2 separate regions of the Homo sapiens genome follow, and region 2 is linked to region 1. The links come from fine-mapping of genetic effects on gene expression. A gene starts in region 1. The other region holds a variant in brackets. All regions are shown on one strand. Distances are from middle to middle.

Region 1 (5,384 bases):
TTCCTTGACTAGAGAGGAAAAAAGCTGAGATAAATGGGTATGGAGGCAATTAAGAAAAGGTTAGCAAACACTGTATGTTGCTCTGCAAACTCGAGCTGGCTTCTCCCCATTCCCTACATTCCTGGCCAAGAAAAAAGGGTACTGGCTTGAAAAGCAAATGTGAGTTGAAACTGGTTTCTCTAACCTATCTGAAAAGTCTTTATGCAATCAGGGGTCTATTATTTCAGGAGACAGAGAGAAAGGGGCAAAACATTCACGTTGCCAAGGAGTCGTGCAGTAGCTGTCATTCCTACATAAATTTTATTATTGAAGAGGGGAAAGGAGATATTTTCGCCAAAGTTTATTTGGATCCCCTGGTTACCGAAGAAAGAAATTCTGCCGATTTATTTTATCTTTAGTTGTAAACTGCCAACCCTGAAAGAATTGAAGGACCTAAATGTTGACCTCCTGCTGCCAACCAGTTCCCTCCACAGTGAATTAACCAACAAAGAGGAAACCCTTCAATGGGAATTTTGAGGTAGTATCAAAGAAAAAGCCTTTTTTAAACACAAAATTAAATTTACAGAAGAAACTTGGTCAAATTTTCCTGTGTTATAACAGGAAACCAAAGACAAAAGAAAATCAGATTTTTGTGGCTTTTTGTGCTATTTCAACTTTGTTACAACTTGAAACGTTTCCAGGAAAGCTTTATAAATAGTCCCAGAGAAGACATGAAACTGGAAGGAATGTAATGAGTTTCTCAGGTGTCTATGTGTGTGTGTGTGAGTCTGTGTATGTGTGTGTGAGAGAGAGAGAGAGAAAGAGAGAGAAAGAAAGAAAATCGCCGGCAGGTCCTCTCTCTTTATTTCCCTTTCTCTTCGCTGACACCAGCAGTTGAAGAATCAAAATTAGAAAGGAAGGGGTTTGTAGCGAGAAATCATAAGTTGACTGATTTTTGCTAAGGGCATAACTGGGGCGCCGGGGAAGGCAACTGGAGGGTCAGGGAGGGCGGAAAGCAGTAAAGCCCCCTGGGACTGGTAGCCTCAGTAGCTACCTTATTCTCCACTCCCCACCCCCATCTTATCCATTTGCAGCTTTCAGCGCTGGCGGAATAAAGCACAACTTTCTAGGCATCTGTGAGTAGCTCATGGAGAAAAGAAAGGTCTGGAGGAGAGAAGAGTTACTTAGAGTGGCAGAGAAAGAAAGGCAACTCACAATCAACGGCGGCGTCACCAAAAAAGGAAAGGAAAACAAGCCTGTCCCTCTCTCAACTCTTCATATCCATCAAAAACGTAAGGAAATAAAATCCAAACCGAAATACATTGGTGAAAACGCAGATAAGGTGGAGTGGAACCGGCAGAAATGTGAACACTAGGCAAATTCGTCCTCGAGAGAGGAAGGAAAAAGAGTGGGGAAGACCGAACAGCGAACCCCCGCAGCATCTCGGTGGAGTTGGGGCGTTTTTGCCTGCTTCTTTTTTAACGGGGGTGTGGAAGGCGTCGCATTTTTTTACACAGCCACATGGCTCTCGCCTCAAATGATAACAAATACCCAAAATAGCGTACGTGTTACTCCAGAACAGGAGGAATGGCCACGGGGAAGGGAGAGGGCGTGGGCTGTCGCTTTAGGTTTGGCGACCAGGGATGGGGAGGGAAGAGGGGTGGATGCCAGGGAGGTGGCGGGAGCCCCAGGATCCGAGAAGGGCCTGGACGGGGTGGGACGGGCCAGGGCAGAGGATGCGGGGACGTGGGGACAGGCGGTGACTGTCCTGGCAGTGGGGCGCGGGGCAGTCCGGGGCGGGAGGCAGGGGTCGCGGCGCGCCAGGCCCTCACCGCTGCTGAGCGTGGACTCGCAGTGCCAGATGTCCAAGCTGGCGGGTTTCCGGCAGGACTCCCACAACGACAGGTAGTACTGGTGGTCAGCTGTGACCCAGGCCGGGCTCAGCACCGCCCCCAGGTCCAGACACAGCGCCAGGAAGATGCACACCAGCCCGACCAGCTTCAAGGGGGTCAGCACCGACACGCGCACCTCCTCCATGCCGCTGCCCGCCGAAGCCATTCCTGGGCGCCGCTGTCGTCCGCCCCGCCGCAGGCGAGGACGCCAGGCGGGTCCGGAGAGCCGGGAGCCGGACCTCCCGAAGGGAGAAGCCGCCGAGCTGCCACGCGCGGGGACTCGCTCCCTCGGGGCTCTGCGCGCCCCCTGCCGCGCGGCCAAGGTGGGTCTGCGGAGGCGGCCGGCCGGGTGTGGGTCGTCGGCAGCCGCAGCGACGTCGATTCCACCCCGGACCTTCGCCGCCGGCCCCGCGCCGCGCTCTGCCAGCGCCCGCGCCCGCTCCTCCCGGCTCGGCCGGGCTCGCTCCGCCCCGGCCCCTCCCCGGGCTGCGGGAGGCGGTGCCGTACGGGGAGGGGCGGAGGGCCAGCACTTGGTGGCTTCGGCTCCAGTTCCCAGTGCCGGAGGCTCGCGCCTGTCCCGCCCCTACCCCGCCTCTGGCCCGCGGGCGGAGCCCAGTGCCAGCCCGCGCCCCCGATTCGCAGCGCGCGGCAGTTCCTTGAAGCAGCCCCGCGCCCAGCCCGGCCCTCGCCGGGCCCCCAGCCTCGCTGGCTCCAGGTCGCCGGGCTCTCCCCTTTCGCCCAGTCACGTGGGTTTCCTTTTCTTAGGGAGCAGGAGTGGGCGGTTTTCTAGAAGGCGCCAGAGGTGGATTCCTAGGTTTCCTAAGCTGTGCCTCTTGGAGCAAGGACAGGTCCTCTGTCTCTCAGTGATGTAACACGCCCCTCCCCGGACAATTTCACATCCTGAGAGATTTGCGGGACGGAGGAGAAAAGTGACTAAATGCATTTTGCCCTCTTTTCAAAACCAGACGGGCCCAGGAGTCCCCCGGTTTTCCCTGTTTTCTCACTTCTCCGCTAGCCTGCTGCCGCTTCTGTTCTCTGGGCTCACCTGCTTTTGCGCCCCCCTATGAAGGGCATTTGCTCTGAAAACGCAGGCGCTAAAAAGGAAATGAGAGCTCCTGCGAAATATGAAGTAAGTCTTATTTCCATCTCCACTGCTCTGCCCTTTGGGTGTTGGCTAAAACCTTTATTAATTCCGCTTTGCATTATGCCAAGCTGGATCTAATTCCCCTCCTGGGTATTAGGATGTCCTTGTCCTTAGCAAGATCTAGCCCAGGACCTGCAATAGGAAAAGTGATGTGTATATTTCCTGAATGGTAAACTAAGCAGTCTACAAATATTTGTTGAGCATCTAAGGGCTAAGGATTCAACACAATAGGACATCGTCCTGTTCTTAAGTAGATGCACCATATTTTCTCCCTTATGTGAGGACTAAACACCTCTTGAAATTGAAATTGAAATTTTGTAATTGCCTGGTTCAGCATGTGATTGGTGGGTTATCTGTCTCTTGTAGCTCTTTGACTCATCTCCATCTTTTCTATAAAATAAATAATTTATTGAATACATTAATGAGGAGGGGCGATGTTTCTAGATCTTTAGTCATCCCAAAAACTTGGTGAGACTCCCAAAACAGTGGTTAAGAGCTGAAGAATGCAAGAAACATGTTCTCTCTTCTATGAAACACAATCCTCAATGTTGCAAGATTTCATACTTTTGGTTGATAAAAATTATTTTTCCCCAACCACATCTTTCCATAGGTTGAACACATGTTGACTGCAGCAACATTTTGGGCTAAGAAACAATCGAGTTAGTGTCAAATGAGAACAAACCTAATGTAAAATAAACGCCCGGGCTTTTCTTATATTTACAATTTCGGGAACTTTTCTCCCACCTCTCAATCATTACCGTGCTAATTATTGCAGGACCCTTAACAAAGAATGCCTAGAGCATCCAGAGCTCACTAACCTCCAAATCCCAAAGGGCTTCTTGGCTTCTCAACTAGAAAGAAGCCTAAGTGCATATTCTCCTTAAAAAATTAGGGAACACTGAAAAATTTACAAACCGGGACAATTAAGAGGTGACCAGGATTGTGTGACTGTTCTTTTATCTAGATTTATAATGTGTATTCAAAAGTAATAAGAAAATGTCTTGAGTGTGCTCTCAAAGATATAAAGAAATCTTTATTTTGCCTCCAACTTCTATCATCTTCTCTTTAATAAGTTTATTTTCCAATTAGCCAATAGTTTTCTTTATTCTCTTCAATGCAGGCTTTCTTTCCCCTCTACCCCTACCCCAACCCCCACCTCCACCCACATTTTTGCTTAATTTTTTTCTGGCTTGTTCTCAACTGCTTGCTTGAGTTACTCCATCCTTCTTTATACTATCTAAAAAAATTGTCTCTATACTGTCTCCAAAACTAGAAAAGTAAACAATTTTTAACAAAAAGCCAAATTTTCCTTAAAAAACTCTATTCCTCTATTAATAATTTATAGAATTTTGCACAACATAGGCCCATCAACCATCCCTAATCCTCAATTTCAAAATACAACAAACTCTCAAAAGTATTTTTTTTCTTTTCATATATTTGTAGCAAACTCAGGGGCACAGGGACACTTCCTCTCCAACTGCTGAAGGTTCACTGGAAATGAACTGAGAAAAGGCAGATTAATTGGAGAAAAAAAATGCATGTAAAACTTATTTTATGTGCACAGGGAAAAAAATCACAGGAGTGTGATTACCCAATAACACAATGAGGTCCAGATGCTTATATACCCTTCTTCACTGAAAGAGAGATGAGGGGTGTAGGAGTAAATGATTGCCAGGGGAAACTGGGCCCAAAGAACATGGCCTGAAACAAAGTTTTTCTGAGCTCTGGGGAAGGTGGCAGTAAGGTGAGGGGCGGAATGTCACTGTGAACAAAGGTTGTCTTGTTATGCAGATTGAGCCTCCCAGGTAATTTCTGAACTGCCCTGGAAGGAATAGATGAAAAGTCAGTCCTGACATAGTGAGAACTCCCAGTCTCTTCTGGGTGGTTGATCTTTCCTGGTTATTTGATGAGATTTCAAGGGAAGGGGTCTTAAGATAATTGCATTTTTTTGGAAAGGAGTTTTCTTAGTTATATAAGGAAATTCCAGAGGGAATTCCTCCTGGTGCTTCAGGAAGCAAAGAGAGTCAGAGAGACAGAGAGGCAGGGAAAAGTCAGAGAGAGTCCTTGAGGCTGATTCTTGAGTTCAGTATGTCAAAGCACCATATTTGGGGGTTTTGTTTTATCATCCAAAAGACCACCAGGATGGCTAAATACTAGAAAGAAGAGCTTTATTGTCGATATTAGTTTTCAAACTGGGAAGAGAAGGTCTCTGGCAGGAGCCGAAGGTGCTCCCTCTTTGAATAGGGGAAGGACAGGTTGGGTTTTATACCTCACGGGGTCCATATTACAAAATATAATCATATATATTCAGCAAGTTTGGGAGAAAAGCAATACATATTTATCAGAGGAGAAGAAAGCATGCACAATGG
Region 2 (5,384 bases), 130 kb after region 1:
TTGAGCATAATTCTTAAGAATTCTAGAATTTTCTGAATGGTAAATGGGCATTGGTCTTAAAGTCACCAGCTGCATTTGCCCCTTGCGAGAAAGTAAGCCTGCCCTTTGAAGCTTTGAAACCAGTCATTGACTTCACCTCTCTAGCTAGGAAAGCCCTAGATGGCATCTTCTTCCAATAGAAGACTGTTTTGTGTCCATCGAAAATCTGTCATTTAGTTTAGCTTCTAAACTTCTTCAATTATCTTTTGGATAACTTGCTGCAACTTCTGTTATACAGACAGCTTCTTTCCCTGAACTTCATGAACTGATTTCTGCTAGCTTCAAACATTTCTTTAGCATCTTCCTTACCTCTCTCAGCCTGCATAGAATTGAAGAGAGTTAGAGCCTTGGTCTGGATTATGCTTTGGCTTAAAGTAGCCTGGCTGGTTTGGTCCTCCATCCAAATCAATAAAGCTTTCTTCAATTCAGCAATAAAGCTGTTTGACTGTCTTGTCATTCATGTGTTCAGTGGAATAACACTTTTAATTTCTTTGAATATCTTTTCCTTTGCATTCATAACTTGGCTAATTGGCACAAGAGGCTTAGCTTTAGTCCATCTCTGCTTCAACATGCCTTCCTTACTAAGCTTAATCATTCCTAGCTTATGATTTGTAGTGAGAGAGATGTATACCTCTTTTTTTTTCTTTCTTTTTTTTTTTTTTTTTTTACGGAGTTTCACTCTTGTTACCCAGGCTGGAGTGCAATGGCACGATCTCAGCTCACTGCAGCCTCCACCTCCCAGGTTCAAGCGATTCTCCTGCCTCAGCCTCCCAAGTAGCTGGGATTACAGGCATGCACCAACACACTCAGCTAATTTTTTTGTGTTTTCATTAGAGACAGGGTTTCACCATGTTGATCAGGCTTGTCTCAAACTCCTGACCTCAAGTGATCCACCTGCCTCGGCCTCCCAAAGTGCTGGGATTACAGGTGTGAGCTACTGTGCCTGGCTGATGTGTGCCTCTTCCTTACACTTGAACACTTAGAGGCCATTGTAGTGCTATTAATTAGCCTAATTTCAATATTTTTGTGTCTCAGAGAACAGGGAGGCCCAAAGAGAGAGAGAGAGATGGAAGAATGGCTAGTTTGTGAAGCAATCAGAACACATACATTTATTAATTTTGTCGTCTTATATTGATGCAGTTTGTGGCACCCCAAAACAATTACAATAGTAACATCAAAGATCATAGATCACTATAACAGATTTAATGATAATGAAAAAGCTTCAAATATTGTGAGAATCACTGAAATGTGACCCAGAGGCAAGGAGTGAGCACATACTACTGAAAAAATGGTATCCATAGACTTGCTCGATACTGGGTTGCCAGAAACATTTAATTTGTAAAATACTCAGTATCAGTAAAGCAAAATAAAGCCAAGCACAATAAAATGCAGTATGCTTGTGTCTTGTTCCTCCTTTCCACTTGAAACCTTATCAGAATACTCTTTACTGTTCATATTTCCATGAGCATTCTGGTCATGCACACTTAAGTCATATCTAAGTGGCCAGAGGCTTTCTTTACAGTTATTCTCTTCTTCCAAGTTCTCACCAGAATCACCCTTAATGCTTCATTAACGGTAATACAAGCTTTATCTAGCATTCACTTCAAAACTCTGCCAACCTTTACCTATGAGCCAGTTCCAAAGAAGACTCCACATTTTTAGTTATTTGCTATAGCAACCACCTAACTCCTCTGGTACTAATTTCTTAGTCAGTGACATGGTTTGGATTTGGATCCCTGCCCAAATCTCATGTTGAATTGTAATCTCCAATGTTAGAGGAAGGGCCTGGTGAGAGATCATTGGATCGTGGGGGAGGATTTCACCCTTACTGTACTTATGACAGTAAGTTTTCACAAGATCTGGTTGTTTAAAAGTTTGTAGCATCTCCCCCTGCTCTCTCTTCCCCCTTCTCCAGCCATGTAGGATGTGCCTGCTTCCCCTTCACCTTCTGTCATGATTGTAAGTTTCCTGAGGCCTCCCCAGCCATGCTTCCAGCACAGCCTGTAGAACTGTAAGTCAGTTAAACTTCTTTCATTTATAAATTAACCAGTCTCAGATAGTTCTTTATAGCAATGTGAGAATGGACTAATACAGTCAGGGTTCTCCAGAGAGAGAGAATAAATAGGTAATAGATAGATGAGATTGGGGGAATTGGCTGACAAAATTTTGGAAGCTAAGAAGTGCCACTTTAGGCTGTCTGTAACCTGGAGATCCAGGGAAGGTCATAGCGAGGTTCATCCCAAGTCCAAAAGCCTCAGAATCAGTGAAGTCAATGCTGTAACTCTCAGTCAGAAGCTGAAGGGTTGAGGGCCTGGAGCTTCCTCTGGTGTAAGTTCCGGAGTCCAAAAGCCAAAGGACCTGGAGTTCTGGTGTTTGAGGGCAGGAGAAGAAGAGTGCCCAGCTCCAGAAGAGAGAGTAAGAATTTGCCCTCTCTTTGTCTTTTTGTTTCATCTGGGACCCCAGCCAATTGGATTATCCCCATCTACATTGAGGGTAGATATTCCCCATTTAGTCCACTGACTCACATGTCAATGTCCTCCAGAAATATCCTCAGAGATGTTTTACCAGCTATCTAGGTAGTCATTAATCCAGTTGTGTTGACATCTAAAATTATCTATCACAGAGCATAAAAGTGCAATTTAGAATTTTTAAAAAACAGTCAGTACAGAGCTCCCTAAAAAGAATGTTACTAATAAGGTCTCATATGAGCAAAAATGGAAAAGACATAAAGGACTTAGTAATGTGTTTATCTGAGGGCAGAGAGTTTCAGAGAGTGAGGTTTGCCAGTTTAAGTGCCCTAAGGTCGAAGCTTTCCTGCAAATTTTCCTAAAATAGCAAGGAATCC[A/G]TTGAAGTTGGAGTAGACTGAGTGAGGAGAAGATTGAAAAGGTCAGGGAACTAAAATATCAGCGAACTAATGATAGGGATCATGAGGATGGGTGGGGATGCCTATGGTTTAGGGAGGTACACCATAACTTTCAGTACTTTCACAGACCATTGAAGTCCCATTGTTTTCTAGCAGATGTTACTTAAATAATGTGCATTTTTTTGCACATTATTTGCTAAGGCTTTACTAAGGACTTGGCATCTTACTCTGAGAGAAATGTGAAGCCAATTGAAGGATTTTGATTGGAGGAGAGAGATAACCTAATTTATGGTGAAGAGGTTTTATATATGTATGTATGTGTACATATTTTTCATATGTCCCCAAGCTAGTGAAATCACTGAGAAATGGATCTGTGTTTGATTTAATTTTTTGCATTGTCTTCATCACCTAGCCCTCTGCCTTTTATAGCATTGTGACTGAATAGTTACCAATTGCTTATTAATTGATTTTGAAACTTAAAAATAGGATTTATATATTTTATAAGAAATGTATCTTGACATATAAAACTTGGCCGTGCTCAAAAAGTAAGAATTTTAGTTTTAAGTATCATAGCTACCTATTCACTTTTACAGAGGTAATGACTTTCAATACTTTCATAGACCTTTAAAGTGTCATTGTTTTATAGAAGGTGTTACTTAAATAATATGCATTTTTTCACTTTAAAAACAAAGATGTATAATCTGAACTGCTGTGCAGACAAAGTCAGTCAGGCTGCTGGGTGCCTAAATGTCCCAATAGCAATTTACTTCCCTTCCATGTGATGACAATTGGAGCTTAATATTCTCCAACTAATGGAGAAAAATAAAATGATTCTTGTTCCTGTGTAGTGATTAGACCCCCTTAAAGCCTGTACCTGAAAAGGAACTAGCTGGTGATGATCTTCCTTACCTCTAGTGTACTCATTTCACTGATGTCCACTCAGTAGCATGTATTCACTGAAATACAAATTTATGCTATTACATCATGTAAATTATTTAATATTATGACAGAACATATTAGTGATCAATGCACATGACTTCTTTGCAATTCTAGCTTTGCTTGGGCTTTGACCTAATGAGAGAGAGATACCATGATAAGGAAGACTAGATGTTACCTAGGGCACTCGAACCATGTGGCTACTCCCTGAATACATCTAAATGCTTTTGGTCTAAAAATGGTAATCTAGAGTTCACAAATTCAGAATTCCCCAGAAAATTAAACTTCCCCCTATAAACTAGCTCCACGTTCACTTTCACTTGTTTCTCTCTCTATTTTGCATCCTTGCTAGATTGAATTTCTATTTATTTTGAACTTTAGGCCTTCAATGCAGCCCAGTAAATTGGGAAGGACTTTGGAAATCAGGGCTTCCTGCGTTCTATATTCAGCCCTGAGACTGAGGAGTTAAAATATTTCTGAAAAGTTTTTGACCCCTTTGAACCTCAGATTGGTTGCCCGTAAAATGAAGATGAAGAAACAGTTGTCAGAAACATAAAATAATATAGCTGTATGTAAATTATATACATAATATGTACATATGTAATATTGAAAGTACATACATGAACATATCATGTGATATAAATTATATATATATGTTTTTGTTGTGTCAGTTCCATACTTTACCTTCATATCTACTATTTTTAAAATCTCTCCCATATAATAGGTTTTTGTTAAATGATAGTCCCATACATTGTCTTTAAATCATGCAAATACGTAACCTTGAAATTGTAGTTACCATATGGTATATGCTGGGAATCTAGTGCATTGCTTACAAATTTCTGAAGATTTTGACAGATGAATAGGTAAAAATTATTAGGGTAGAGAGCATTTGTAAATTAACATAGTGTTTTAGGACGTGGACAATATTTTCAAAATTATCTTATCTGATACTATGTTTTCCTTTTTTTAACTTTTAGGTTCAGTGGTCCATGTGCAGGTTTGTTATATAGGTAAATTGTGTGCCATGGGAGCTTGGTTTATAGATTATTTCACCACTCAGTTAATAAGCATAGTGCCCAAGAGGTAGTTTTTCAATCCTCCTCTTCCTTTTCCTCCCTCAAGTAGGCCCCAGTATCTGTTGTTCCCTTCCATTGTACTCAATGTTTAGCTCCCACTAAGAAATGAGACCACGGAGTATTTGGTTTCCTGTTCCTGCATTAGTTCACTTAGGACAATGGCCTCCAGCTCCATCCGTGTTGCTGCAAAGGACAAGATCTCACTCTTTTTTTTTTTGACTCTGTACTATTCCATGGTATATATGTACTATATTTTATTTATCCAGTCTACCAACATTTAGGTTGATTCCATGTTTTTGCTATTGTGAATAGTGCTGTGATGAACATATGTGTGCATGTGTCTTTATGATAGAATGATTTATACTCCATTGGGTATATACCCAATGGTGATAAAGTGGTGTTGTTTTTTTTTTTAATTTACCCTTTTCCTCCATATGTTTTCTGGGAGAAAGAAGATATTACAAAATTAG

Alleles and levels. Alleles are on the strand shown, and positions count from the first base shown. SD is a standard deviation of normalised expression in the study named.
For the expression in tibial artery of the gene that starts at base 2,293 in region 1, allele G in region 2 goes with a higher level than allele A (small effect, 0.23 SD a copy in GTEx).

Evidence for each region. PIP is the estimated chance that this variant, and not a neighbour inherited with it, causes the effect.
Region 2: its variant is fine-mapped to the expression of TMEM47 in tibial artery (GTEx, PIP above 0.99).

The regions. Positions count from the first base shown.
Region 1 is chrX:34,654,993-34,660,376 of GRCh38, forward strand. It overlaps TMEM47 (transmembrane protein 47), which reads right to left and starts at 2,293. Exons shown (of 3, transcript NM_031442.4): 1 at 1,812-2,293. The coding sequence starts at 2,037.
Region 2 is chrX:34,787,668-34,793,051 of GRCh38, forward strand. No RefSeq gene overlaps it. Among named protein-coding and RNA genes, the nearest start is that of TMEM47, 130 kb to the left of the region's middle. The variant A/G (reference allele first, on the strand shown) is at 2,885.